Linked DNA regions of Homo sapiens. The protein of the gene in region 3 purifies or fractionates together with the protein of the main gene of each other region. This does not show direct contact. Each region holds a gene or a part of one and is shown on either strand. Other genes may lie near its edges.

Region 1 (4,221 bases), about 17 Mb from region 3:
CTAAAAATTCACTATCAAAGGGATAAATGTATTTTTTGAACAACTGTCTTATGTCTCATGAACACTGCGAGTTTTGTAACTGACAGGTTGGTTCCTAAAAAGGGCCAAAATTACAGCTCCTACTTAGATCACAATGTACACATCGTTAGCTTCATTCACAACTCAACTTCATCACCACCCTCAGTTTGTGCAATTCCCCCTTTCACTCATTGTCTTTGGTACAGCCTTGCGGGCTACCTTAGATCCTGTCTGGTACAAGGTAAGGTACAGGTAAAATAAAACAGAGGCATGTTTGTGTTCGTCAGTGCTCATGCTCCCAGTTACCAGTTCTCTCCGTAGCCTGGCCAGCTCCTCTTTTTTCTGCTCTTCCTCCTGTAGTCTGGCCTCCTCCAACTGCTGGGCTTTCTGGGCTTCTACCTCAGCCATTCTCTTCTCCAGCTCCTGCCGCTCTTTGGCTCTCTTCTCAGTAGCCAGCTGAAAAGGTTCCTGAACTAGAGAACCAGAAAGGCCCTCTAAGTACAGAAACAGAAAAAATATTGGTGCACAAGCAGGACTTGCATAAACCTACGCCCCCTGGAATGAGCAAGTGGCACAGACATGCACACTAACAGGAAGACTGTGCTCTAAACAAGCCCCATTGGGAGAAAGGTAGAGCCAACTAAATACAAAAAGTTTTAGAATTTTAAGAGTTCAAAGGGCCCCTGGAAATCGTCTGGTGTAATTGGGAAAAAGGCAAAGACATAAAGTAGCTTGCACAAAACTATATAGTGATTGATTTTGAGGCAGACATAGAAGAAAGATCCCAATATTCTTTTTTTCCCTTTTTGGAAAGATTTTTTTGAAAAAGAGATGGGGTCTTGCTATGTTGCCCATGCTGGTCTCAAATCCCTGGGCTCAAGTGATCCTCCTGTCCGGGCCTCCCAAAGTGCTGGGACTACAGGCATGAGCCACCACACCCGGTGGAATCCCAGTATTCTAGCACACTGCCCAGTGTTTAAGGAATCAAATGTTTTATATCTAAAGTTTGCTTCAGGGTGAATTCCAGAAAGCCATACTGGCTCTCCCTCCCTCATTTACTTGTTTCTCTGTGGATGGGGAAAACCTATCATTGTTGTTGAAATGCCAGCTGCTTCTGCCAAGGTTCATGTTAAATGAATCTGGCCCTAACACATCCTGCAACTCAACATAGCTGCTGGGTTCAATAAAGGCAAAAAACTGGGTCTAGGGGAAGAAAAGCTACCATCTGCTAAAGTCAAATGCTTCTAGTTGACACAGCATTGTACTGACACACTGAATTCCAGCATCCCACTGGGAAGTCTGACAATTCTGCCCGAGTCCCATCAGAGTACATATAATACTACCAGCAACTGATTTCTTCTCTTTCTTGGGAACAAAGGGCTCCTGAGAGATGACGGTGTTTGGACGAGCCTTGAAACAAGCTGCTTCTTTCTGCTGTCTCAGTTCTTCTTCCAGCTATTAGAGAGAAAGTCAGTCAGATGAGCAATGTCTCACCTTTCTATGACCACTACCTCAATAACTTAAGTTCTAATGTCTGAACTGCTTCATCAATAAAAATAGCAGATTTAATATAAACCCTAGTAAAAATCTTTCACACAAACTTTACAATGAACAGATCAGTCTGACAACATTTGAACTCACTGAGAACTAGAAAGCATTTTTAAGATACTTTTAAGATTCCCAAGTTTGCATTTTCGACATTAAAGTTTACTTTTTTTTTTCTTTTTAGTTTATGTTCACATTTATTTTTCTTATTATTATACTTTAAGTTTTAGGGTACATGTGCACAATGTGCAGGTTTGTTACATATGTATACATGTGCCATGTTGGTGTGCTAAAGTTTACTTTTAAATTAAAAAAAAAAAGATTCCAAACACAAAGAAATGATAAATGTTTGAGATTATGGATATGCTAATTACCCTGATCAGATCATTACACATTATACATATTGAAACATCACTATGTACCCCAAGAATATGTACAACTATTATTTGTCAATTAAAAAAAACAAAAAATTTTAAAGGTACTTTTAAGACCTATCTTTATATCATAAAAATAAACAACTAGACATTTTCTGCCTTCACACATGATTCATTAGGAACTATACAGTATCACCTATAAAGTATTCTTCCCACCTCCAAAAAAAAAAAAAAATCTAACCAGAATTGAATCAAGCCTCCAGATCTTACTACTCATTTATAGGAAATACAAGCAACAGAGGAACATGTTAGACAACTGTGTGGGAACGCAATCAGCAAAATCCAGATTGTGGAAAATCTACAGTACAAACAATCCAGTTTATTCAACAAATAAAATGCAAAGAGAGGAGCCTATAGATTGAAAGAAGATTCGGAGATTTAGCAAACAAAGGCACTATGTAGACTATATATGGATATTGATTTTAACAATTCAACTGTTTAAAAAATTATGAGAAATGTGCAGATATTTGATTATTTTTAATCTTTTTAAGTGTGAGAATATTATTGTGGTTATAAGTCTTTATATTTTAAATATATACACTGAAGTATTTTTGGATGAAAAGGGATGTTACATAGAATTTGTTTCAAAGTAATCTTACACAGGTAGAAGTATCCAGTGTAAGATAAGTGGGTAGAAGTTGGGATGAAACAAGACTTTTCATGTTTTGATCACTATAGAACCAGGTGATGGGTTCATGAAAATTCATTATACTATTCACCCTACTTTTATATTTCTGAAAAGCTTTTTAAAACAATTGTTTTTGTTGTTGTTCTTTGCAGAAAATGCCCTACACAGACATTCTGTGTCTTGGTCATTGAGAGGGGAAAATTCACTATTTCCAAGGCAACAGTCCTAAGGTTTCTTAGAGAACCACACTAACAGGGGACCAACGTTCAGTCATGTAAGCCATTACAACTCTCGGGCTTCAGGAGGGGTAATTCCTACAAACAAACAATAGCCTAGAGCTCCTTTTGGAAAGAATCCAAGATTAATGATGACATAAAAATCCAAAAAACTTAGAAATTCAGGGGAAATTTTTTCCAGCCACGTAGAATTAGATCCCAATTAAATCAGCAAATAACCAATTAATTGTTTTAAATCACCTGTCATTTATAAAGAGCAAATAGCACATCATGCTGAGAAAACAGCATTGTATATTTCAATCTATTCTCCCATACTGTTTCTTACCAATGCATCAACAGAAAGGAATAAACACAATGAATGAGTCTAATAGATGGAATAGATAAGATCTTAAAGAAACTCCCAACTCCAGAAAAGCCTGTCGGTTCCCACATTCCCCGGGTGATCACTTGGAGCAGGGGACATTCCCAGGTGATCACTTAGAGCAGGGGTCAGCAAACTCTGGCCTACAGGCCAAATCCAGCTTGCAACCTGTTTTAGGACAGCGCTTGAGCTAAGAATGGTTTTTACATTTTTAAAGAGTTGATTGGGCACAGCAGCTCATGCTTGTAATCCCAGCACTTTGGGAGGCCACGGTGGGCAGATCACTTGAGATCAGGAGTTTGAGACCAGCCTGGCCAACATGGCAAAACCTTGTCTCTACTAAAAACACAAAAATTAGCTGGGCGTGGTGGCACGCGCCTGTAATCCCAGCTACTCGGGAGGCTGAGGTGGGAGAATCACTTGAACCTGGGAGACGGAGGTTGCAGTGAGCCGAGATCGCACTACTGCACTCCAGCCTGGGTGACAGAGCGACACTCTGTCTCAAACCAAACAAAAAAAGAGTTGAAAACATGTAGCTGGGTGTGGTGGCTCACACCTGTAATCCCAGCACTTCGGGAAGCCGAGGCGGACAGATCACGAGGTCAGGAAATTGAGACCATCCTGGCTAACACGGTGAAACCCCATCCCTACTAAAAATATAAAAAAATTAGCCAGGCTTGGTGGTGGGCGTCTGTAGTCCCAGCTACTCAGGAGGCTGAGGCAGGAGACTGGCGTGAACCCAGGAGGCGGAGCTTGCAGTGAGCCGAGATTGTGCCACTGCACTCCAGCCTGGGCAACACAGCAAGGCTCTGTCTCAAAAAACAACAACAACAACAACAAAATGTGTGCGTACACACACACATACACACACACACACACACACACACACACACACACACTATGCGACAGAGACCATATGTAACCTACAAAACCTAAAATATTTCTTATCTGGCCCTTTACAGAAATAATGTGCTGACCCCTGATTTACAGTGAGAGCCC
Region 2 (3,807 bases), on a different chromosome or scaffold from region 3:
ACTTCTCTGGGTGGCAGCCTTCTCTCCTCTGAAATACTGAGTTTGGATTAGGTGGCACAGTCCCTGGTTCTTTATTTACCCATAGGCGTTATATGAATGTGTAGAAATCCATGAGGAAATACAGAATGTCTTACCAAAATATTGAGAACGTCTCCAGTTTTTGTTATTTTGAGATAGGGTCTGGCTCCATTGCCCAGGCTAGAGTGCAGTGGCACAATTTCAGCTCACTGCAGCCTCTGACTCCTAGGCTCAAGCGATCCTCCCACCTCAGCCTCCTGAGTAGCTGCGCCTACAGGCACGCACCACCACACCTGGCTAATTTTTGTGTTTTTTGTTGAGATGGGGTTTTGCCCTGTTGCCCAGGCTGGTCTTGAACTCCTGGGCTCAAGCAGTCCACCCATCTCAGTCTCCCAAAGTGCTGGAATTTATAGGCATGAACCACTGCACCTGACCCTCTCCAATTTTATTCTCATATCTACTCCAAACTATTATTTTAAATTAGTTTTATGTTATTTCCATAGATGGAAATAAAATATTCACTTGTGGACTACAGTTGTGAGTACCTAACTCCCTCACCCAACAGTTCTTTTTTTTTTTTTTTGGCTTAATAAATAAGCTGGAGGACAGCAAGATAGAGATGTATATAAAGGGAGTTGGATGTTTCGAATAAATTGAAGAATCCATGTAATCACAGGGCCCAGATGGTCATTGCTGGGTTGTCATCTTTTCATTTGTCCTCCCTCTCTTCCCTTCTTTCCCCAGGGCTTTGGGAATCTCCCCATCTGCATGGCTAAAACACACTTGTCTTTGTCTCACAACCCAGAGCAAAAAGGTGTCCCTACAGGCTTCATTCTGCCCATTCGCGACATCCGCGCCAGCGTTGGGGCTGGTTTTCTGTACCCCTTAGTAGGAACGGTAAGTGCATGCTGCAAGGGAGTAGTGGGCGCATCTGCACTTCTCGTCTGAAGTGTGTTGCCGAAACCATCAAGCAAATGCCAAGTGAGCAGAGTTCACTGCCCAGAAGAAAATTGGAATCGGGCCTATTATGATTGCTGTGGATCATAAGCTATAAAGCAGGAGCTATATAGCTCTTGCTGTGGACCATCTTGGTGTCAAATCAAGAATGATGCCAGGACTACTCATACTGAATAAAAAATTCTGTTTCCCAGGGACAGTATGCTCTTCACTGAATCTAGGATGAGCCCAGTTGATAGGCTGGGGTAGTGCTAACATAATCACAGTTAATGTTTATTGGGAGCCTTACATAGATTAACTCAGTCCCCCCACAGCCCTAGGAGGTAGGGACAGAGGTTTTACTGACAGGCCTAGAACTTACGTCTGAAATTCAGGGGGTTCATTATTTTTAAGTAAGGAATTTCCCCATTAAAAAATGCAAATGGACCCTTGAGATATGAAAGGTGAGGTTGCTTATTTACGCTTCAAGGTGAACAAGGTGTCCATTGCTTTCTTATCTTACAGATTTTATGCATATTCAAAGAAGAATATTGCCAGTTGGGAAGCAGAGGGGAGGGATGCTTAAGGACATAATCATAGTTTGGGCTGACATTGTTCCAAGGTTAACTTGGATCCTGAATCTAGGTTATCCCCTAAATCTGCCCTGTATCCTGTATCTACAGATTGTACTGCCATGCAATACAGGACTGAAATATTAAACTAAATCAACACACATGGAAAAGAAACCAACATACATCCTTTTGGATTTATGTCATTCTTTCAGTATAGTAAGAAAGTGGTAGGAGGTGGCATTATAGAGTTGAAAACGTAGGACATTAGAGCTGAATTCATTTTCACCTCTTCAGATCTTGGCCTTGGGCAAATTATGAAAGGTGAGAGCCCTGCTGCCCTCAGCTCACACTGTAGGCAACATCATCACATCACAGTGGTGCTTAGCACAAATGCCTGCATCTCACTGCCTCCTTAGCTCTCTATAGAGAGCAGAAGGCTTAGACTTGCTATGATGTACATCAGTCTCCAGGATTTGTAGAAATCCCTTGTGGTAGGAATTTTCCACCATTTTTACCCAGCACCTTGAATAGTGCAGAAATATGTGTTGTTCTTTTTGGAGAAGTTGTCAGCAGCTACCAGCTGAAAGACGGGTAGCTGTACTCTTTCTTGTCACTTTTGATCTTCACATGAAGAAAAGGGTAACAGTAGAGGTGAAAGCAAATCTGGAAGCAGTCAGGCCAGTGAGAGTCAGGCTGTAAGGTGGAGAGAGACACAGCCTGCCGAACTCAAGACTTTCTCATTTAGAACAAAGTATGTGTCAGAGGCTTTTAACTTTAAGTTGGACCAAGGCGTTTCCACACATGATCAAATGGTTTAATCACTATTCTAACACCTTCCAGTTGCCGTTGGGGCCTTAACGAGACTCAGATTATTTGAATATTTTCTATATTAATTCAAAGTGTGATGGCTTATTTTCAGAACTTTATATCTAGGTTCATACATGTGCGTACACATAATATTGTCTTTTTTTGTATTTTTTCTGATTATCAGTGACCAGTGTTTAGGAGGGAAAATCCTCTTGGGGAATGAGTGAAAATATCAAAAATCCTACTCATCACTGTTTAGGGAACCATCTTTAGGGTTTTCTGCTGACATGCACATGCCCGTCTACAACAATGGGCATGTGTCTTTTATCTTTATAATGTCATCTTCCGGTTTTTCTGCTGTGTCTAAGGACCCATCCTTTCCTCTCTCCTACTTGTCTCACACCTAGCACCTCCTTACCTCTTACACAATATAAGAATATAAACCAGTTGTCAGATCCCTATAATGTGTTTTGGGGAATATTGATTGGTACTCAGAAGTCAGTCAGAATGAGGTTTTCTAAAGTATTGATGATGTTTTGTGTTACAGAAGATGACTCTTTTTAAATAACCTTTTTATAGTTAAGTTTTAGAAGTAACCTAAGCTGTTTTCCTGTCTAGATTTGATTTGGAACTTGTGTGTATTCATTATATAGGACATTGTTACAGATAAAAATATACGGAGTTTTCACTTGCAAGCCGTACATATTTGCATCTAAGTAGAAATTTGTCAAAGCCGAGTCTTTAGAAAAGTAGTGAGTACAAATATAATTTGTAAGCATTACAAGTTTAGTTTTAGAAGGCCATTTTGGGCCAGTAAGAATGGTGATTATAAAACCATCTAGATTATGTACAAAAGTGTCTTGGCCCAAGTTAAAGGATACTAACTCCTACCATCGTGTTGCTGAAGCAAAAATCACATGGGCAGCTCAGCTAGCAAGACTGAACGAAACAAAATTTAAAAGCAGGCAAGCCCTGTACCTCCTTTTGGTCTTGCAAAGCGTGAGCTGAGGAGGCGAGTGAGCAACTCCTCTACTCCCCAGCACTCATTCTTGTAAGGTGAAGGTGGAAACACCTCCTGCTACTGCTTGTGACCACATGGAAGATGATAGTGAAGGCTGGCATTTGGTTTGCAGAAGGACATGAGGAATCAGTTTCTTTTCTTTTCCTTTTTTTTTTTTTTGAGATGGAGTCTTGCTCTGTCACCCAGGCTGGAGTGCAGTGGCAAGATCTCGGCTCACTGCAACCTCCGCCTCCCAGGTTCAAGCGATTCTCCTGCCTCAGCCTCCCAAGTAGCTGGGATTACAGGCACACGCCACCATGCCCAGCTAATTTTTGTATTTTTAGTAGAGATGGGGTTTCACCATGTTGGTCAGGCTGGTCTCAAATTCCTGACCTCAGGTGATCCATCTGCCTTGGCCTCCCAGAGTGCTAGGATTATAGGCATGAGCCACCACGCCCGGCAGGGATCAGTTTC
Region 3 (4,221 bases):
TTTTGTATCTGATGTGTCAGTTCTGAGATGAATTGGTTCTGACTTGGACATGTGTCTTGGACCAATCATGCTACGTGTCCTGACCTCAGTTTCCCCACCTGTGAAACAAGGAGCGGGGAATCCGGGCTTCCTTTCTGCCTGGGCCTTTTGTGTGTCCCCAAGCTGGTGCCAGAAACAGACGGATTGTGTAACCTGACCAGCCATACGTTGTTTGTGAGCCACAGGAGTCCTCTCTCATCTTGGCCCGTCAGGAATGGCCCCTAAACATCCCAAGGCATTTTCGTTTTCAAAACTAACCTGGGGCTTAGAGCTTCAGGAACTGCTAATTACCAAGGCTTTCCATGGTTGCAAGGCTGGCAGCCTCAGGTTGTGATTCTCTTCTGTCTTCCCACTCTCTCTTCTCAGCCTTTATATTTGCTAAGGGATTTTCCCTGCTGTCTCCTGGCTTGGAAGAATGCACGGTAATCCCTCCCTGCTTTTATTTCCATGTGGTTAGAGGCAGGCCTTAAAGGACCACCCTGGTCTCCGTGTGTCCTTGGTGTGAAGGTCCCATCGGCCCATGGAAACCGTGGAAAGTAACCCCCGTGATAGGGGCCATGTGTGGCTTCTGTCCTCAAGGAGAGGACGGTGTAGTGGAGGATGGCCAAATGGGTGTTTAAAAAAAACAATCCAAGTGCAAGGCTCTGGAGCCAGACTGCTTGAGGTTAAATCCTTGGACTTGTGACCTTGGGCAAACACCTTAACCTGTTTGAGCCTTATTTGTAAAAAGAGGGATGTTAATAGGTCCTATTTTATAGGTTTTTAAAGAAGATAAGTGAGTTATAGAAATTGATGTAAAGCACTTAGAACAGTGTCTGGCAGTAAGGTATATAAATATTGGTTATTATTGTTGTTGTAGGAAAATTAAATAATACAGATAATTAGGGTTGTGGGACTTCAGCATCCAGAGAGCAGGGGTGATCAGAGAGGGCTTCCTGGAGGAAGTGAGGTCTGAGTTAAGTCAGCACTGAGAGGAGGATGGGGGCTCTGAGTGAGTTTCCTTTTGACACCCTAAACTCCGGCCACAGGAACCAGTGGTTTTGTTTGGTTCCAGGCCGAGGGCTTTGTGGTTCCTTGAGAATCTTCCCATCTTTCCCCATCTCCTTCAGGAACTGGGTTGCACTCCCTCCCTCATCTCCAGGGAGTCCTCTGAGTTTGGTGTTTTGCGTGTGTTTATTAAATAATCATGAAAAGGCAAGGACAGCCCTTTCACAGAGATGCTGGATCGGTCTTGGGGGAAACAGTGCCTGGGGTTTTGACTCAGAACCTTGGCTCGAATCATTTCGAGGCCCTGGCTATGTGGGGTACTCCCCGTGTGCTCTGGGCAGCGTTAGTCATGATGAAAACAATGACAGTCATTGCTGTGCAGGAACTGACTTTGATTCATCACTTGCCATTCTAAGCACTTTGCATGTGTCAACTCATTTAATTTTCTTTATGAAGGGGATGCTGTTTTTATCCCCATTGAGAGGTGAGGAAACTGAGGCAAAGTGAATCTAAGTGAGCTGCTCTGGGTCAGGTGGACAGCATTGCCAGGATTTGATCCTAGGCTGCCTGACCCCACAACTCATGTCCCCAGCCACTTGATAGACCGCCTTTGGCTGATCCAAGAAGGGCTTGGCACATGATTTATTAAGGTGGCAGAACTGGGATTTGAACCCAGGTCTGTGTGATGTTTCACCTCCGCCTGCGCTTCCTCCTGTTACTTGCCCTCTGTGACTCCCATTCTTTTCTCCACAGAATGGGAAGAACTGTGGACGGATAGAAATGGCAGGCTGCCGAGTTCTTGCTCTGGGCTCCGGGTCTGTTCATGGCACGAGGGTTGAGTGAGGCTCTGGAGTCATGCTGCTGGTGTTCAAATCCAGGCTTCTTCCACTTGGACTGTAGGTGACCTTGGGCTGATCACTGACTTGCTCTGTGCCTCAGTTTCCACATCTGTCCAACGGGCACAGTGTAGCACCTGCGTCACAGGGATGTGGTGAAGCTTGCCCCCCACTCCCCTAGAGGAGGCTGAGTAGACCTTGGGCCCACCTGCCAAGGGGAGGCACCTCAGGGGCAGGTGCCAGTAACTCCCATGATGGGGTGTGTCAGCTGGGCAGTGGTCGAAAGAGAAGAGAGGGCCTGGGTGGGTGGGCAGAGAGGCCGGTGGGTGGGAGTTGGTCAGCAGCTCCTCGAAGGTCTCCCCGTGGCTGAGGACAGAGAGCTATAGAGACACAGAGGGTCTGCCCGGAACCGACCAGGATGGGAGTCTCTGAGGAACAGGGATTGTGGGCAGAAAGCTCCCAGAATGCTTTCTGTGGTTCTGCTTTTTGGAGGGAGGAGACAAAAGTTTTTCTTCTCATTGGAGCTCCGCTTGCCAAACAAGAAACTGTGGTTTTTTGTTGTCACTATTTTTTTTTCTGTTTTAAAAGATTCTGTACTCCTAGTCTCACACTAGGGAGAAATGCCACGGGTGGTTGGGGTGGGGGCAGGTCTTTGATTTCACAGTCATTGAGGCAGAGGGACCTCCCCAGTAACTTGGGGGGATTTTCACGTGGTCCTCATATGAAAAGTAGGATGCTGAGAGGTATATGTAACACAGTTCTTTTGGAAAATAAACAATAACCATAATATACACGTGTGTTATATGTATAAGGTGACATTAGGTTGGAGAAAAGGATGGAAGGATGTGTATCTTTTACAGAAAGGCAACCAGGAAGATAAGGAAGTAAAATCCTGTTTATAATACCCTTTTCATATAAAATTATGCATATGTATGCGAATATATTTTTTAAGAAGCCGACAGGAAGAATTGTATTTTCAACATGGTTATTAGATTAATGCAACAGTAATAATGGTAACAATTTGCTAATATTTATATACTTGCAAGCCCTGTTTATAAGTTCCTTAAGCATTAACTCAAAAGTTGCAGGTATTCTTATGCTTCCTGTTTTACAAATGAAACAAAGACACAGAGAGGCCAAGTCAGTTTCCCAAGGTCACACAGCCTGACAGAACTGGCACTTGGACCCAGGTAATGCGGCTGCATGGCCCACATTCTTCACCACTATCCTGAATTGCACCAAAATGAGGCTGTGTTCATGAGCAAAATTACTGCCCCTGTGAGACCTCTGGGCTGCCCAGGTGGGCAAGAATTAAGTCAAAAAGTCCACCTTATTTCAGTTTTCAGATGCCGGAGAGCCTGGAACAGGCCACCTTGTGTTGGGCTCATCATCATCAGGAAGTCAGTGAAAATCTTTTGATGGTAAAAACTGAGTGTCAGCAGGATTTAGATGGGTTACATTTTTTTTAATGTATGGCAGACAGAGAGCTCTGTACAGATAAAACCATGAAGATATGAGACTGCTTTTCTCTGTGTGCAGGTATTTATGGAGCATCTGCTGTATATCCTGGGCAGTGTTCTGGGCCACGAGAATGAAGTCATCAACAGGTCGTTGTCCTTATAAGAAGGACAACCCTGTGGGGATTCTACAACTCATTCTTCAGACAAACCTTCTGGAAGCCTACCTACTTTTATTCTGGTGTTTGCCCTGGTAGCAATTTAACTGTCACTTTAAGAAGACGCGAATGGGGTTGGTGTCTCTGGCTTTTGAGACTTCAGGGCACCCCTTTCTTGGAGAGAAAGATACTCCTTTATCAGGCCAGAGAGCTGAAGACCTGTTGGGCTTGGGGCCACTCCCTTTAATAAAGAAACCCACATCCTATTTGCTTCACAGCCGCTCTCCCTTAAAGGTTTTGCAAGAGTTTAAGTGTTTGAAGCAGGTCATGCCTGGCTGCAGGAGAACCTGACCTCTCCAGATTTTTGGGGCTTTTCTTTTTTTCCAACAGACACAGGCATGCTGGCTAGAATACTGGAGGGAGGTGGGTGATAGGGTGGGCTGCCCCTCAAACCTGTGTGCTGTGTCCCACAGCATCATTCCCCAGACATGGGGCCAGGTCGGAGCTGATTCCTGCCCTGCGTTTCGGAGATCTTGAACAGAAGCCAGGTGGGTCATTCGGTCTGAATCTCCTTGTTTTGCAGGTGACATAAATTGCGTCCCCAGAGGGGAGGTGAGCACCAGTTAAGGGCAGTAGCCACTCAGTTTGTTAGAGTTCCATCCCCAGATACCTGGGAAGAGAGCTTGGTGGCCCACATCCTTTTCTGGGGATCTGTGTTTTAGCCAGGATCAAAAATCCCCCCGT
Region 4 (4,221 bases), on a different chromosome or scaffold from region 3:
TTGTGAGTAGTAAATTATTTCCAAATAAAAAAGTTAAAATAAGCAAATACTGACTCCAAAACAAAGGTTTAGGTCCACCTTTTCAGAAAGGCTTTACTGGAGATGACATTTCCTTTCATCTCTCAGCATGTGACCATAGGAAGCAAAAAAGTGTCAGGGCAGAGACTCCTTAGACCAGGGACAATGGCTGCAAAGCGCAGGCGGGATGTCTAGCCCTGCACAGAAAATGTCAGGCACGTGGCAGACTCAGAGCCCCGGCAGAGGCGCTGTCGGCCAGGCTCGTGATGCCCTGCCCTGCAGCATCTGGCTGTGTAAACCCTCAAACCCTGGTCCAGGTGGTTTCCTAAATGGCCCTCATGCCCCTGCCATCCTCCCCCAGGGAGATGCTGATGACACCCCCTATCTATCTGCACCAAGCTCACCACATACTCATCTGGGAACACGCATGGCTTACAGCGGTCTCCAGACCCGCAACCCCTCCCTGGGCCTTGCAGCTCCGATGACACCCCGTGGCTAACCCTGGGCCCCCTCTTCAGCACAGTCACCTGCTGAACAGCCAGGGTCCTTGGGTCCTGCCCCCCAGGAGGCGACCCTTAGACCTGGGGTGAACCCAGCTCCCAGAGGTCCTGTGCCATGGAGGGAGTGCCACATTTGCAGGGAGAGCTACCCTGAAGGCCAAAACAGGCGCCAACAAGAGCAGCTGGAATCCAATCGCACCCTTCCCGGGGAGCAGAAGGCAGTCCTGCCAGGTCCCCAAACTGTACAGGGGCCAGGGAGGTTCCCTCAGAAGCAGTTCTCGGCAGAAGGGAACCAGGCTTGGCAGGTGTAGAGAGCCAGGGCCAGGTGGAAAGCCAAGCCCCAGGGTGACAGCGCCGGGGATTAGTTCATTAATTCAGTTCGGGCATCTGGCCAGCCAGGCGGGAAGAGTCCCGCCTCCCTGCAGCAGGTGTGCTGACTCAGCACTGGGCCTCGGTGGCTGTGAAGTTACCTGAGAAGTTTGCAGAGGTGATCAGGGCCAGGCCCAGAGCGCTTAGCAAGAAAAAGGATGTGACTTGCAGGGATAGCCCTGGAGCCCCTTATCTCAAGGACTCCCACTTCCACAGCCCAAGAGGCTCCTGGGAGGACACGCCACTGTCCTAGAATGAACCTCCAACTCCTGACCCACCTCTGCAGCACCTCCCCGCAACGCCACTATTCTCAGGGGCCCTCCGACTGGAGACAAGCGGCGTCGGCTCTGCGTCTCAGGATGGGGGTGTCTTCGGAGGATGAATGAGGCCAGTATGTGAGGTGCAGGTGCAACGCCATTTACAACCTGGAGGGCATCGTCTCCTTCTCATGCCCTAGAGTTAGGAGCTCACGGAGCCCTCAGGAATCGGGCCTGTCTTCCCTGCCCACTCCACCCTCCAGCAGCCACTCCCGACCTCACCGGGCCTCTCACCCACTGCTCTCTTGGGTTTGTCTTGGCAGCAAGAGCCCATCCTCCTGGCTGCCCACACATCTGCTTGGCCTCCTGAGCTCCCAGCACTGAGTATGTTTGACACTCAGACCTTCTGGGTTTGTCCACTGTCACTTCTTTCTTTCTATTGCTGCACTGAGAGTACACCCAGCCACCCCCACCCATTCTGAACTGTAAATCAACAACCATAAACGCTGGTAGTGGTGGACACAAAATAGGAATCATAATCCCAGCACTTTGGGAGGCCGAGGCGAGTGGATCAACTGAGGTCAGGAGTTCAAGACCAGCCTGGACAACATGGTGAAACCCCATCTCTATTAAAAGCATAAAAATCCACCGGGCGTGCTGGCACATGCCTGTAATCCCAGCTACTAGGGAGGCTGAGGTAGGAGAATCGCTTCCCGGGAGGCAGAAGTTGCAGTGAGCTGAGATCGCGCCACTGCACTCCAGCCTGGGTGACAGCGAGACTCTGTCTCAAAAAAAAAAAAAAAAAAAAAGGAATCAAACATCTAAGAAGCACATTCTTTGATCTATTTGTTCTCCTCCAAGATTACACTAAGGAAATAAAGATAATCCTAAGGCTTAGTGAGCTTGATTTCAGTTTCATGCTGGGGTAGGGATTTTTGTTGATTTGTCTTTTCCACTGATAGATCTTCTGCGCCTTGAGCAGGGCACGAAATGCACATGGCGCTGAGGAAAGACTTGTTGGCTAAATGAATGTGTCGTATCTTCTATTGCAGTTATGTAAAATGAGGTAACTGCAAACATCTATCTACCCCGTAGAGGGCTTACAAAATGATGGCTTCTTCACCGAACAGTCTGTGCCACCAGAAAAACAGCCCTTATGGAAAAATATGTAATGCCTACGGGAAGTCTTCATGACCTAGAGTTAACGGAAAAGTGCAGGCTGGGCCGGGCGCGGTGGCTCACACCTGTAATCCCAACACTTGTGGGAGGCCAAGGCAGGCGGATCACTTGAACCTAGGCATTCAAGACCAGCCTGGGTGAAACCCCATCTCCTAAAAATACAAAAATCAGCTGGGTGTGATGGTGGGCACCCATAGTCCCAGCTACTTGGGAGGCTGAGGTGGGAGGATCCCTTAACTGGGGGAGATTGAGGCTGCAGTAAGCCATGATTGCACCACTGCACTCCAGCTCGTGTCTCAAAAAAATAAAAAATAAATAAATAAGAGAGCGCAGGCAGGATCCTGGTCCCTCACCTCCAGTGAATGTGCACACGCAGCCACAGACCGGGCAAAGCATGTGACCTGGGCACATTTATTTATTTATTCTGGAACTACTTGCTGAGCATCCACTGTCTTGCCAGGCACTGGCCTAGGCGCTGGGCTGCAGCGTAAGGAGGCCTTGGCCTCTCAGAGCCTCATCTACACGGCATGGCCCCACCCCCAGCTCCTCAATCCAGAGTGACTACAGGGGGTTACACCTCATGTCCTCCTGGCTGTGTGGTGTCCAGGTAACAAACTCCTGCCCTCCAGGTTATGGATCAGCCCTCTTGTGATCAAAAGCAGGACTTACGGGGCAGTGTGGTGATGTGGGGACTCGGAGGCAGGCCGGCCCAGCTGCCAGGTGCACCTGCTCGGAGCATCGGGCCGGATCCACAGGGGCTCCTTGGCTTCCTTATCCTCTGGGGACCCCTTCTCCAGGCTCCCCTTCGCCGAGTGTGGCCCTGAGCGGTGGGGGCAGCCTGTGGGCCCCACTTCTGCCTGGGGGGTCTCAGAAGGCATGCTGGGACCTGGCAAAGCAAGGAGAGAGGCGTCGGTTCAGGCTCGGATGCTGTGGGGTTCCAGCGAACCCTGCTGACCCGGCCCCCTCTGGGAGGCGTGCTCTGCTCCCTCAGAGAAGCCCAGGAAGAACTGCACAAAAACACAGGCACCAGCCCTGTGGGCAGCCGCTTGGCCATTTCTCTCCTATAGGCATATACCAAAAAAAATGGAAGCAGACAGTTGCTTGGGCCGGGTGCGGTGGCTCACGCCTCTCATCCCAGCACTTCGGGAGGCTGAGGCAGGAGGACCACTTGAGTCCACGAGGTCAAGACCAGCCTGGGCTCCAGCCCCATCTCTATTTAAAAAATAAAACAACAACAACAAAACAGATGCTTGCACACCCATGCTCACTGCTGCACTATTCACAAGTCAAAACGTGGAGGCAGCCCACGTATCCGCAGACGGATGAACACACACAGTAGGCTCATACACACACTAGAATATTACTCAGCCCTAAGAGAAATGAATTCTGGCACACGCTACAACACGGACGAACCTTCAGGACATTATGCCAAGCGAAATGAGCCAGACACAAAAGGACAAATACTGTGTGATTCCACTTCCACGATGAGGCACCTGGGACTCTCGAACGCCCCTCTATGTCTGGCAAATTCATAGAGATAGAAAGTAGAATAGAAGCGGCCAGCGGCTGAGGTGAGTGGGGAAGGGAGGGTGATTGTTTAATGGGTGCAGAGGTTGTGCTGGGGATGATGAAAACGTTCTGGGTGGAGATAGTCACGGTGGTTGCCTCACACTTAGAAATGGTTACAGTGATCAGTGTTACGTGTATTTTACCCAGGATTAAAAACACACACACGCACCTGAAATAGATGAGACAGAAAAAAAAAAGAAGAAAGCAAAAAGAAAGCCAGGCGAGGTCCCATCTGCTGCCCCTCCTCTGGGGGGACAAGGAACCCACGACCACCTCCCACCTTGCCTTCTTCAGAGGGCCCAGGACTGGGCTCAGCCCCGCTTCACCCT
Region 5 (4,221 bases), on a different chromosome or scaffold from region 3:
GGATTACAGGCATGAGCCACCACACCAGGCTCTCAAGTATTTTCAGTCCACAGTTGGTTGAATCTGGGATGTGGAACCTGTGGATACGGAGGGCTGATTGTGCTATTCAGTCATACAAAAGGCTGTTCAGAAGATTATGTTTCACAGATCCTTTCAACCGAAAAACAGAGTCTGTAAGAAGCTTAGGTCTCATAAAGAAGATATTTATGAGTGTGGCTTTTGTCTAATGGAGTAAATCCCAAGGAGAATCACAGGAGGCCCACAAAATCTTCTGTATCAGTAGAAACACTGCCATCTTGGATCAAAAAGGACAGAAACAGTACAAAATAGAGACCACTAGTTCCCCTAAAATTCTACTGGAAAGAAGCAGCCTGAGAAAAGAACTCAGGTAAAAACACACTCTAGCTTTGATGAAAAAGGAAGACTCAGAAGACAAAACCAAGAGTCTAGAGGGTAGAGCCAAGAACCACGGAGAATTATTCTTCTGCTTTGAGGCCTGATAAAAGAAACTCCAACATTTCCTGGATTTTGGAACAGCAAATAAAATCAATGACTCCTTTTTGTGCCTCCCATTCTCCCCTTTTATGTACAGAAATGTGTATATTGGTTATCTAATGCCTGTCTCACCATTGTATGCTAGGTACATGGGGAAAGGATAACTTGTCTCTTTGGTTCCACAAGTTCACAGATTGAGAAGAACTGTACTTGAGGAGCTGTGCTTAAGGAACTATACCTGGGGGGCTCATCCAACCGGACCTAATTTAGGTAATAAAACTCTGGACTCTGAGCTAACGCTACAATGGGATGAGACCCTGGGAGGGGGTCAGTGTATTTTCGACATGGAGGTATGTAAATTACTGGAGACCAGAGAGCAGACTATGACAGGCAGTTTCTAAGATGGCTCACAATGATCCCTGCACCTCCTGGTATTCACACCCATGGGTAATTCCTTCCTCTTGAGTGTGGGCTGCATTTAGTGAACAGAATGTAGCACAAGTAGAATGTCAATTCTGAGATTAAGTTATAAGAGGCCATGGTTTCTGCATAGGCACATGCTCTCTTGTTCACTTGTCAGATAGCCCAGGTGCCATGTTCTGAGCTGTCCTATGGAGAAGTCCATGTAGCAAAGAACTGAGGGAAGCCCCCAGACAACAGCCAGCAAGGAACTAAGGCCCTCAGTTCAGCAACCCACAAGGAACAGAATCCTACCAGTAACCACATAAATAAGCTTAAAAGCAGATCTTCCTGTTTGAGCCTTCAGATGAGACCCCAGCCCTGGCCAACAGCTTAAATGCCACCTCATGAGAAATCTTGAGCCAGAGGACCCAGCTAAGCTGGGCCTGGATTCCTGACCCACAGAAAGTATGATATATGTTTGTTATTTTAAGCCACTAATCTTTGGGGTAATTTATTATGATGCAATCAAATTATAGAGGTTTCCAAGGACTTGAAAAGAGAGATAAGATTATATGGAGAAAGGGGCCAATAAACCAACCTTGTAGTTAGCATTTGCAAAGTCTCTCCAACTAGAGGTGAGAAACTGGGGTCAGGAATAGGCGAGCCCTCACTGATTTCCTCCAAAGGTGGAGTCTGAGGTAAAACATCAGGACGACCAAGGTGAACGCCTGGAAAAAAGATAGAGAAGATGGGGTACAGTAAATACAAGGAAAAATATGTAGCAGCTAGGCTTCCTGGATAGAAATGGGAGCAGAGGTCCTGGCCAGACAAGATAAAGGCTCAGAAGGAAGGGAGGGAGTACCCAATCACATGGGGACCCCAGCCCTAGCGCTGACCTGGCTCCACTTCTGCCTTTGTTGTCACTTGTGCCTTGTGTTCCCCAGAGACCGATGGCTGGTAAGTAATGCAGGAGTTGCCACTGGAGCCTGCTCGCCGAGAGAAAGATGAGCCAGACCGAAACTTTTTGGAAGGAGAAGGCTTCACTTCAAAAGGGAAAGAGAGAGCCTACTTAGCAACTACCTTAGCAACTATTACCAAGACATAGATACAAATAATTGCTAGTATCCCCAACACACACCCAAAGTTGGTCTGAAAAGTGAAAAGGCTAATGTCAACAAAGACAGGCCTATGAATTACTATTCAGAGAACAAGGTGTTAGCTCACTTCACTTTCCAAGAGGCATGAAAACCTAGAAGAAAGGAAACATATCCACACCTAACCCCCCAACATGGAGCCTTGATGACTGCTTTACTTCCATCAGATGAAATGTACCCTATTGCATAATTCCTTTTTTTTTTTTTTTTTGAGATGGAGTTTCGCTCTTGTTGCCCAGGCTGAAGTGCAATGGCGCGATCTTGGCTCACTGCAACCTCCACCTCCAGAGTTCAAGTGATTCCCATGCCTCAGCCTCCTGGGTAGCTAGGATTACAGGCATGCGCCACTACACCCAGCTAATTTTATATTTTTAGTAGAGACGGGGTTTCACCATGTTGGTCAGGCTGGTCTCGAACTCTTGACCTCAGGTGGTCCGCCCACCTAGGCCTCCCAAAGTGCTGGGATTATACGTATGAGCCACTGCCCTGCCCCCTTTTTCTTTTTCTTTGACGAGAGTCTTGCTCTGTCGCCCAGGCTGGAGTGCAGTGGTGCCATCTTGGCTCACTGCAAGCTCCGCCTCCCGGGTTCATGCCATTCTCCTGCCTCAGCCTCCCAAGTAGCTGGGACTACAGGAGCCCACCACCATGCCCGGCTAATTTTTTTTTGTATTTTTAGTAGAGACGGGGTTTCACCGTGTTAGCCAGGATGGTCTCAATCTCCGGACCTTGTGATCTGCCCTCCTCGGCCTCCTAAAATGCTGGGATTACTGGTGTGAGACACTGCGCTTGGCCCCCCTTTTTCTTTAATAGTATCCTATAGTAAAACCTGAGAAAGATAACTTTTTTTGAGATGAAGTTTCCTCTCTTGTCACCCAGGCTGGAGTGCAATGGCACTATCTCAGTTCACTGCAACCTCTGCCTACCGTGTTCAAGTGATTCTCCTGCCTCAGCCTCCTGAGTAGCTGAGATTACAGGTGCTCACCACCACCCGGCTAATTTTAGTATTTTTAGTAGAGACAGGGTTTCAACACGTTGGTTAGACTGGTCTCGAACTCCTGACCTCAGGTGATCCACCTGCTTTGGCCTCCCAAAGTGCTGGGATTACAGGTGTGAGCCACCGTGCCGGGCCAAGAAAGATAACTCTTTCACTCTACATTTTCTTAGCATGTATGTGCCCAGCACTAAATAATTGATACTTGTAATTTTTATCACTTTGTAAAGATTTTTTTATCTTTTTAAAATTTGTTGTAGAGACAAGGTCTCATGATGTTGCCCAGGCTGGTTCCAAACTATCGGGCTTAACCGATCCTCCTGCCTTGGTCTCCCAAAGTGCTGGGATTATAGGTGTGAGATACTGCACCCAGCCTGGTTTTTCCATATCCCTTAAGACTGGCATGCCTAGGTCCCCTCTCCCTCGCTATGGGAATAATGATGCCTAATATGAGAAGAAGGGAAAGAGAAGCTAGAATTTGCTATGGCAGCAGCATGGAAGATTTGCAAAAAAATATTGGCACTTCCTAAACAAGAAAGTTGAGAAAAGAGACTAAAAACATGTGCTAAGCAGAAATCAGTAAATGCTTCTGTAACCACCTGAGATAGTCTAGAAGACAAAACAGAACACCATTAACCTCACTGCGTATCTCTGTACATAGGCTCTGCCTATCTCTGTGGCATGGATCCTACATCCACAACTACACATTATTTATTTATTTATTTTTTTGCAAATCCCAATTCCCCAGAAATGGTCCTCACCTCATTGACATATGCAGGAAGAGCCAAGGGGGAAACAGCAACTTGGAAATGACTATGACAGACTAACACAAAGGACAAGAAATGGCTCTCATGGGATGTAGGTGGAAGGAGAGGCCTCTGGCATTGGCAGCTCCCTACCAGAGGTGTCCTGCCCTCTGTTCTCTTGGGGTAAGGGAGCCACTGGGCAGGAGTAGGCAGTCAATTGGTAGAAACCACTTACAGGGAATCTTCTTAAATACTGTGTTGCACATGAAGCGCTGGAACCGTTCAGCGTAGAAGCCTGGGCGATGCACTGAGACAGTGTCCTGCAGAGCAGAAGAAATGCTATAGAGTTAGGAGGCCCGGCAAGAGGAACTCTAGTCCAAGGGCCATCTTCCCCCAGACTGAGCCCCTAGCAGAAGGGTAAAACCTACAGATG
Region 6 (5,017 bases), on a different chromosome or scaffold from region 3:
TTCAACAAATACCCCTCCTCCCACTGCCCAAGAAGCAATATACAAAACATTGGCACCCAGTGTTTTCTTTTCCTAAAAAAGGACTGCTTAAGTTGGTAAAGGTAGTCAAGGCATCTCTCTTTGGGGCAAACAGAAAGCACTTTACAGAGTGTAAGAAAATAAGAGGTCGGTGTGCCTCTGTTGCCTCATCTTCAATGTATACTCACAACATATGAGCAAATCAAATGGACAGGTGGCAAACCACTGGGTTATTTCTCACTTAAGGGCCTGGGAGTGGGAGAAACTGCTCCCAAAACATCTTTTTTGTATTGACTGGCACCCTGAAGCCCACAGGCCTGGCTTCTACGTATCGAAGAGGGGTCTTGTTCATATTGAAATTAACCCAGATAGTTTGTGTGTGTTTAAAAATAACATACTACTGCAATTTTATTCTAAATGTAGAACTTGAAAGTATTCAACTCATCTTAATTACGCCCAGATAAGCAGTTCCAGAATCCCAAATCCGGACCCTATTTCCGTTAAGTTTGTTTGCAGTTCTGATATCCCTAAAATAGTAATAGTTTTAACGGGCAGTGGGATAATAAAGGGAGGGAATGAATTTTTAGACAGGATACAGATTTGAGTTTAGTACTCAGTCGGTAAAGCAATCTCTAATCAAAACACCCTTGAAACTTTTTAAAAATCAGGTTCAGAATTTAAAGGAAGCTCTTAAAAGTCATATATATTTGCAAATTATATATGGCATTTTTCTGAATCAGTCTGGTGTCCTGAAACACAAAAGGTATTTACTATGATGGCTCTATGTTTGTCTTGAAATCCCAGTGCAGGTTTTCAAAAAAAGGTTTCATTATCTACTAAACTCTACCATGACAAAGATCTCCTTTTCACCACATAGTTCAATTTCCACAAGTGTCAACAACTTTACTGTAAAACCTAGCCTTAAGTCTGAACATCTATGTAACAATTATACAAAGCACTTGTCTCTCTTTAGGCATTTTTGTGGTGTGTTTTCAATACAAAATGTAATCCACTAGCTTTGGGGAAAAAAAAAAGGCACGCATTTTCAAAGAATCTTGTGGTATTAAAAAGAATCTTAAGGTTCTATTTTTCTCCTTCAATCTTTGTTACTTTTTGAACTAAATTTCATTTGCCAGGTCTTAAAAACTAAAAGCGTTTTTCATTGTGAAGTTACATGTACCTCTCGTCTTGAAAATCTGACAGACTTGGAAATTTCTATCAACTTTAGTTTTTAAAAATTATGTAAGCACACAAGATTTATATAACAAAGAACAATATTTCACTCTGATGTACAGAAACCTGAGAACTGGGGAAGCAACCCTACTTCTACAAGCAATGGTACCTACAGAATTTACATATATACATAGGGTGGGGTGTAACCCCTCAAAAGGCGCTTTGGGTACTTAGGGATTCAAGCAATAATTTGAAAAACAGAGAAAAAGTACAATTGTCTACCCATACTTACTTGTAAATCTTTCTTCAATTTTAGCAAATCTTCATTTTCTCCATTTCCAGATAATGCAGCTTCAACTTGCTGGAGCTGAGCTTTGTAGCTTGCCAGCTGCTTTGCTAAATCCTCTGACATCTAGGGAAAATAAAAAGGGTTAGACCATGAAAACTAAACCAAAAATCAAGGCATAAAAAACTAACTCCCCTGTCTGCCTGAATTACCAGTTTTTGCCTCTAACTCCTTCTAACACTGCAGCTTAATTTACCACCATTACCTTTACTCTCAGTTTAGACTTCAGCTAAACCACAAACTTAAAGGCAACAGATTCTGAGGATTATAAACTTGAGATACATTCCATACTTTAAAAAAGCATACAGATACAAAGAAATTTCTAATTTTCTTTTAACTCCTATCCACAGGGTAGGTGCTGAATTCGGCTCAATAATCAGTGTTATCTTTTTAAAAAGCACTACTCTGTTGGAAAAGTCGAAACTTTCAAAAACAATCCAAATACTTATTTTTAAGCACTACAGTATGCTTCCAAAGCCAAACAAGTGCGTTTTTAAATTAACTACACAAACTACGATCTTTACTTGAACTATTCAATTAAGAGTGTATTTAAAAGTGCCTCTCCAAAACAAAAATCTTTCGCCCAGTCGCTTAAATATTTATCGGTGCATTATCTTCAGCAAAAAGAACAGCACAGGTACTCTCCCATTTAGGCATTCTAACGAATGTGCCTTTCGCCAAATCCAGCTCAGTCATTTTCCTGAAAATAAGATACCAATTAACCTTTTTTGATGGTTTATAAGCAAATGTACCACGTTTCCGAGGACCCTTCTCCTTCGTAAAATTCCCGTCCAACCAAAGGCTGGGAGCCTGCAAAGGCCCCCTAAGAGTTACAGCGACCCAGGCTGCTCTCCTCCCCGCCACGCAGCACCTCAAAGCCCGCCACAACTCGATCATTCGGACGTGGAAATCCACACGCCAGCTCCAAGACCACCGCCGGAGCCCCGCCGCGCTCCAACAGGCAGGCTCCACAGGGAGCCGCGCGGCGCCCAGCCCCACCCGACCCGGTCCCCTGCGGGCCGTGTTTGCCGCCGCCGCACGGAGGCCAGCGCCGGCCGGGCCGCCGAGGCTCAGCTCTGGCTGAGAGACGGCCGTGGCTCCGGGATCCAGGGCCAGCGCCTGGGCGTCTCCGGCGAGGCGGGCTCCTCAGCCTTGGGCCTCCGCTTCACCTCGGGAGGGACCCGGGCCCGGCCAGGCCTTACTCTCTCCCTCAGGGGGGTTGTTACCTTGTGTGGGGCTGGGGGCGGGGCGGCGGGAAGGGGTCGGGGCAAATGAGCCCAGTGGTAGTGGCGGTGGCAGCAGCAGCAGTAGCAGTAGCAGGAAAATCACCGCGACGACAGCAAGGCGACCCGGTCTGAAAAGGAAGAACTCGGTCGGCGGCGAGGGGGAAGGGAGGAACGCCGGGCACTGGAAGGAGGAAAAGACAGAGACGGTGAAGTCTCGCGAGAAATACAAACTCTCGCGCGAGGTCGCTCGACTCACGTGACTCCGCGCGCCCTCTAGCCAGTCCCTGGCTGTCAGGGACACGAAGTAGGCGGGGCCTAGGAAGGAAATGGCGTAGCTGGGCTTCGCCAGGCGCGGAATGCAGGTTATCTTCCTGGAGTTCCGGCTTGGAATTTATTGGAAATGCAAATTCTCAAGCCCCACCCCAGACCTCCTGAATCCAGAGACTCTTGTTTTAATAAGCTCACCAGATGATACCAATGTCCGCTGACGTTTGAGAACCACTGCTTTTCCGGGGCGGTGGTGGTGGGTGGCGGGGGGTGTTGGTGGGGGCTCTCTTTACGTTGCCCTGGCTGGTCTCCAGCTCCTGGGCTCAAGCTATCCTCCTGCATCGGCATCCCAAAATGCTAGGATTACAGGCGTGAGCCACCGCGCCCAGCCTGAGAACCACTACTTTATATGATACAAGCCTTAGTAGTAACAGAAAGCTAATTAAATCGTGACAGAAATAACCTATTGGAGAGAAGATTGATTTCTTTAAAATCTGTTTTGTTAAAACCTACTTGGTTTTAATTTAGTTGGGTTAATCTCGCCTGATAGGGAACAACGTCCAAGTTAGTCTAGAATGGTAAAGAGTGGTAGGAATACTCACATTTGTGTTCAAAAAGAAATGCCCCTTGTGTATGTTTGTAATAATATATACGCTTTCTGGACGGATACACAAAACTGTTCAGAGGTTTGGAGTGGAAGCCAAATGTTTTATTGATTACCCTCTTTGCTGTTTACCCTTTTTCCTTTTCTTTTTTTTTTAAACCATATATATATAATTTATTTCAATTAAAAAAGCAATAAAGGCCTGAGACACAAAGTTTTATATAGATGACAGGAAGCAACCTTTCCTGGGAGGTTGGGAGTTTGTTGCTGGATCCATAAAAAGGCCCACTTCTCGCGGATCACCTGAGGTCAGGAGTTCGAGACCAGCTCGACCACGTGGAGAAACCCCGTCTCTACTAAAAATACAAAAAAAAAAAACCAACAACAACAACAACAACAAAAAGCCGAGCATGTTGGTGCATTCCTGTAATCCCAGCTGCTCGGGTGGCTGAGGCAGGAGAATCGCTTGAACCTGGAGGCGGCGGTTGCGGTGAGCCGAGATCGTGCCATTGCACTCCAGCCTGGGCAGCAAGAGTGAAACTCCGTCTCAAAAAAAAAAAAAAAGGCCCACTTCTCAGATGGGCTCTTTTGAACTGTGCCAACATCTTTAGTTCCTAGTTTTCTTTTCAAGGAGCCTTCCCTTTTGTTCTCTACACACACACACATAACCCTTGCAGTGAGTCAGATAACCTGTATAGATGGAAACTAGGTCGGGTTTGTGAGTGTGAAAGATTGAAATTGCAGCAGAGGGCAGCAGTGTGTAGCTAGAATTAAGAAGGCAGACAAAACAGAAAGCATGTGCTTTTAAATAAATATTCGTTTAAAATAAAATGTAGTTTTAGAGAACTTCTGTTATTGTAATTGTGTGTTTTAAGAACCGATGCGAGGAGGAACTTCCTTGAATATAAAGTCAACCTTATTGTGTAAAAATCTCTTAAATGAGAACTTTTCCTGAACCCCATAGATCAGAAAATAGGCAAATATTCATTATAAGTTCCATCATAGATTTCTATACCATCTTAATAATTTTTTCAGGATTGTTTTTAGGATTGTTTTTATCTATGCAACATTCATTTATAAAGAAAAGCTATATTGAATTTTAATTTTCACAAAGAAATAACAGTTTGTATGTGCCAGATACCATTCTAAGCACTTTACACAGGTTCATTTAATTTTCACAATTGTATGCGGTGTTGCTCCAGACAAAACTGGAGCAGACAAAACTAAGAGCAATACTTCAAATAGGCTTTCTGAATTACTATTTCCTTTGAAGTGTCAAAATTTACTTTCAGTGTCTGATTTTTCTTAAAACATTTGCATTCAAACTTAATCATGTTTATTTAAAAAAAAGTATCTTAAACCTTTAGTTTTGAAACGTGATAT
Region 7 (3,768 bases), on a different chromosome or scaffold from region 3:
TCTGATGGGGACTTGGAGACTCTTTATGTCTAGCTAAGGGATTGTGAATACACCAATCAGCACTCCGTATCTAGCTAATCTAGTGGGGACTTGGAGAACTTCTGTGTCTAGCTTAGGGATTGTAAACGCACCAATCAACACCCTGTCAAAACGGACCAATCAGCTCTTTGTAAAACAGACCAATCGGCTCTCTGTAAAATGGACCAATCAGCAGGATGTGGGTGGGGCCAGATAAGAGAATAAAAGCAGGCTGCTGGAGCCAGCAGTGGCATCTCCTCGTACTCTGTCCTGGTGTGGAATCTTTGTTCTTCACTTCTTTGGGTGCATGCTGCTTTTGTGAGCTGTAACACCGCGAAGGTCTGCAGCTTCACTCTTGAAGCCAGTGAGACCAGGAACCCACCAGAAGGAAGAAAGTCCAAACGCATCCGAACTTCAGAAGGAACAGACTCTAGACACGCAGCCTTTAAGACCTGTGACACTCACGGCGAGGGTCCGCGGCTTTATTCTTGAAGTTAGTGAGACCAAGAACCTACCAATTCCGGACACACTGGATTTACAGGTGTGAGCCATCCCTTAGTCCTTTTAAGAGTTCAACAATTAGGATTGCTTCATTAAAAAGGGTAATAATAACTACTATTTATTGAGTGCTTTTATTGTTTTGTTTTTAGAGAAGTAATTATCTAGTAAAAACAGTGTAGGTTTTCAGGATTGTGCTGCCTGTGTGGAAATCGGGAAAAATAAGGATGCTTACCTTAAACGGGTGTGAGGGATTAACTGATGTAATACATGCAAAGAGCTTGGAAGAGTTGCTGGCGCTTAATCAGTACTCCAAAAAATGTTACCTTCAAAACCACCTTTTAATGCAAAAGCATATATATACATACACACACATTGTTGGTTATTATTCATGCAGAAAACAATCTGGGAGGAAACATAAGACATTAATAATGATCACCAAATAGATGTAGTTTGATTTTTGTTTTTCACTATTTCACTTGTATTTGTGGAATGGGCATGGGTTGCTTTTTTAATAAGATTAAAAGAATAACTTTTCAGGAAAAAAAAAAGTTTAAGGAAGTAAGGATGATTGGCCTGGAGAAGCAAGTTTCATAGGAGACATGGTAGATGTATTCCAATAGTTGAGCCTTAAGTGGGGAAAAAAAAAATTTGTACCGTACAGCTTCAGAAACAGGACTGATGGATAAAAGTTTCACAGTGTTTCTAACAATCAGAGATGATTAGAAAAGCCACAATGAGCACCCCATCCTTGAAGGAATTCAAGCAGAAGCTGGAGGCCACCTCTTAGGGATGACCTATAGGTAATTCACGGATCAAGTGGCAGATTAGATCACAAGACCTGTAAGTTTCTATCGAATTGGGGATTCTGACTTATTTCCTATTTGACCTAATTTAGCTTTGACATACACTAGAAGAGATGAGAAACAGGTGGTCATCAGCCTTCAGAGAGCTGAAGTCTGTTCTCTTGCTAATTATTTTTCTGCAACGATCACTGTTTCTATAAATCTTATGAGAAGACACTTGTGTTCCCTCGTTCTATGGATCCAGTGTGGAATGGACACGTCAGAACTGCTAGCAGAGACATGTGAGTGCCCACTCCTCACGCCACCAAATGGCCAGCATCAACCCTGAAGTACAGTCTCAATGTTGGTGCTTGCCAAGAACAGACGAAAGAATAGGCAGTGTCTTTGGAGTTCAGGAGTCTGTGATGCCATTTTTGTCTTCTGTATCAGTCAGGAATGGCTAATAGAGGCCTGGCCTAATGGCTTAAACAAATTAGGTGTTTGTGTGTTCACGTAACAGTAGTGCACAGGAATACCATGCAGGACTGGTATGGCAGCTCTACAACATCCTTGCAGAACCAAGCTCCTTTCTTCACCACTCTCCTACGTACAGAGCTTATAGCCTCAGGAGCTTCAGCCATCACTTCTGCGTTCCAGGCAGGAAAAAGGGAAGAGCAGAAGGTAAAAGTGGTGCTCCTCTGAGTTTTAAAGAACTCCCCTAGAAGTCCTGCTCAGTAGTTAGTGCTTCTGTCTCATGGGCCACATTTTACTGCAAGGGGTGGGGGATGGAAAATGATGCAGTGTTTTTACTAGGTACTTTGTTATCTCATTAAAGTCCAGCGTTCTGGAACTAGGGAAGTAGGTGGATATAGGGCAAACAATAGCAGTCTCTTCCCTTCTCACACAGTCCCTCTATAAGGCTAGTGGGGATTACTCCATACTTCATAAAGATGAGAAAACTGAGAAGTGGTCGTGAGGACTTGTTTAGAGCCACAGAATGTCAGTGGTGATGTTGGTCCCAACACCCAGCTTTGAAAAAATGAGAGAACACAAAGAAACCCATGAACATCTGTGGACAAACACCAGCTGTGAGCCCAGGGCCACCTCTCCTTGCGGAATCAAAACTGGCAGATGAGAGAGGCTGCAGAGGTCAGTGAGGACGAAGGTGGCAGGGCACTGGGGCAGATGTTTCAGTGATGGTGCTCCATGCTCTGTGTCATTCCTTAGGTTGGCAAAAGGTAGACAGCTTTGGCCTTGGCTCAGCTGGGAGAACAGATGGGCAGGAATTCAGCACAACTCCTAAATCAGCCAAGCGGCAGACTGCCTCCTTTCCTTCTCTGGGTCAGCCAAGGCTACAGTTTCCACCTGGTCACAGCCAGCTGCAGAGGCCCAAGACTGAAGCCCATGACAGCTCGGCGAGGAGCACCTAGAAATGTGCCATCCCACACCTGACTGTGAGGGGCCATCAGGAGAACAAGCAAGGGCAGGTGTTTCTTCCAGCAGTGAGGGGACATCTGTACTGAGCTGCCCAGCAGGAGAAAGATTAGATTTCTCTGTGCAAAGCAAACAGCTCCTTATGGCAGTCACATACCTGTCCTCACTCCTTTTGAGCATAGGGCTATACTGAGAAAACCAGTTTGTTTGAAAAAGGCCTGGAGCTCTGTTCTTTCTCATCCCCTTTATCTACCATAGGAATAATGGCAACGTGACCAGAGGTGTAAGGGGAGCCTAGGACCTACTCTGAAATACATGTAATGCAAGTGGAGGCGGCAACTCCCCACATCTGAGGAGGGGAAGGTCCTCACAGAAGGGAAACAGGAACAAAGCAAAAGTAGACAGGAACATGTGTTTAGCTTTAGACACAGGACATAAAATGCAGTTTTGCTGCAGTTCTGGTGAGAGCACGTGGCATAGGAGGAAGACGGCTGAACGTCGCGGGGTTTGCTTGGGAGGAAATGACCAAGCCCAGAGGGAAAGAAGCGTTCCCTCTTTCCCCTTCCAATGCTTACATCAATTTTGGATTATCTGTGTATTTACTCCCCATTCATTGACTCTAATTAAAAGTTGACTGAAATCTGTTTAGAATTCTATGTAGCCAGGCTTTCAGAAAAGCTTTTTAAAATAAGTGTGGAGTAGAAATTTGGTAATGAAGATCACTACCATGCTCCTTTGAGAGAAAAGATGGGAAAGGGACTGGAAGGAGAGGATGGCTAGACGGAGGGAGGGCTAGCTGTGGTGGCCCCACGCTCCTCAGAAGCCGTGCCCTGAAAAGAGCCACTTCTGAGCATTCCACTGACATTACTTTTCCACGAAGCTTTGGGCACCTCAGGCCCCTGCAGTTGGACAATGAGGCTCTTCAGACAACTATAAAGAACTTCCAACTCTTGCTCCCTCACCCCAGGCCTTCTGTAATCTTGAGACCCTAGATCTGCTCACGTGGGCTTGGGAAGGCTGGTCAGATGGCCAA

Evidence for each region.
Region 1: the proteins of PREX1 (region 3) and TPX2 purify together in Homo sapiens (affinity purification with mass spectrometry; one large-scale study listed by BioGRID and IntAct). This does not show direct contact.
Region 2: the proteins of PREX1 (region 3) and MTHFD1 purify together in Homo sapiens (affinity purification with mass spectrometry, with the first as the bait; one study listed by BioGRID). This does not show direct contact.
Region 4: the proteins of PREX1 (region 3) and CBS purify together in Homo sapiens (affinity purification with mass spectrometry, with the first as the bait; one large-scale study listed by BioGRID). This does not show direct contact.
Region 5: the proteins of PREX1 (region 3) and PIP5K1A purify together in Homo sapiens (affinity purification with mass spectrometry; one large-scale study listed by BioGRID and IntAct). This does not show direct contact.
Region 6: the proteins of PREX1 (region 3) and SMNDC1 purify together in Homo sapiens (co-immunoprecipitation; one large-scale study listed by IntAct). This does not show direct contact.
Region 7: the proteins of PREX1 (region 3) and UTP25 purify together in Homo sapiens (affinity purification with mass spectrometry; one large-scale study listed by BioGRID and IntAct). This does not show direct contact.

Annotation. Positions count from the first base shown.
Region 1 is NC_000020.11:31,794,656-31,798,876, reverse strand, and holds part of TPX2 (targeting protein for Xklp2), read right to left. Parts: intron 1,474-4,221; coding exon 1,362-1,473; intron 513-1,361; coding exon 325-512; intron 1-324. UniProt on the Homo sapiens protein: Spindle assembly factor required for normal assembly of mitotic spindles. Required for normal assembly of microtubules during apoptosis. Required for chromatin and/or kinetochore dependent microtubule nucleation.
Region 2 is NC_000014.9:64,453,961-64,457,767, forward strand, and holds part of MTHFD1 (C-1-tetrahydrofolate synthase, cytoplasmic), read left to right. Parts: intron 1-762; coding exon 763-915; intron 916-3,807. UniProt on the Homo sapiens protein: Trifunctional enzyme that catalyzes the interconversion of three forms of one-carbon-substituted tetrahydrofolate: (6R)-5,10-methylene-5,6,7,8-tetrahydrofolate, 5,10-methenyltetrahydrofolate and (6S)-10-formyltetrahydrofolate.
Region 3 is NC_000020.11:48,821,210-48,825,430, reverse strand, and holds part of PREX1 (phosphatidylinositol 3,4,5-trisphosphate-dependent Rac exchanger 1 protein), read left to right. Parts: intron 1-3,786; exon of another isoform or gene 3,787-4,025; intron 4,026-4,221.
Region 4 is NC_000021.9:43,068,993-43,073,213, forward strand, and holds part of CBS (cystathionine beta-synthase), read right to left. Parts: intron 3,210-4,221; 5' UTR 3,202-3,209; coding exon 2,993-3,201; intron 1-2,992. UniProt on the Homo sapiens protein: Hydro-lyase catalyzing the first step of the transsulfuration pathway, where the hydroxyl group of L-serine is displaced by L-homocysteine in a beta-replacement reaction to form L-cystathionine, the precursor of L-cysteine.
Region 5 is NC_000001.11:151,239,842-151,244,062, reverse strand, and holds part of PIP5K1A (phosphatidylinositol 4-phosphate 5-kinase type-1 alpha), read right to left. Parts: intron 4,109-4,221; coding exon 4,024-4,108; intron 1,941-4,023; coding exon 1,794-1,940; intron 1,626-1,793; coding exon 1,496-1,625; intron 1-1,495. UniProt on the Homo sapiens protein: Catalyzes the phosphorylation of phosphatidylinositol 4-phosphate (PtdIns(4)P/PI4P) to form phosphatidylinositol 4,5-bisphosphate (PtdIns(4,5)P2/PIP2), a lipid second messenger that regulates several cellular processes such as signal transduction, vesicle trafficking, actin cytoskeleton dynamics, cell adhesion, and cell motility.
Region 6 is NC_000010.11:110,301,985-110,307,001, forward strand, and holds the start of SMNDC1 (survival of motor neuron-related-splicing factor 30), read right to left. Parts: upstream 2,937-5,017; 5' UTR 2,764-2,936; intron 1,604-2,763; coding exon 1,484-1,603; intron 1-1,483. UniProt on the Homo sapiens protein: Involved in spliceosome assembly.
Region 7 is NC_000001.11:209,854,636-209,858,403, reverse strand, and holds the end of UTP25 (U3 small nucleolar RNA-associated protein 25 homolog), read right to left. Parts: 3' UTR 839-3,768; downstream 1-838. UniProt on the Homo sapiens protein: Component of the ribosomal small subunit processome for the biogenesis of ribosomes, functions in pre-ribosomal RNA (pre-rRNA) processing. Essential for embryonic development in part through the regulation of p53 pathway.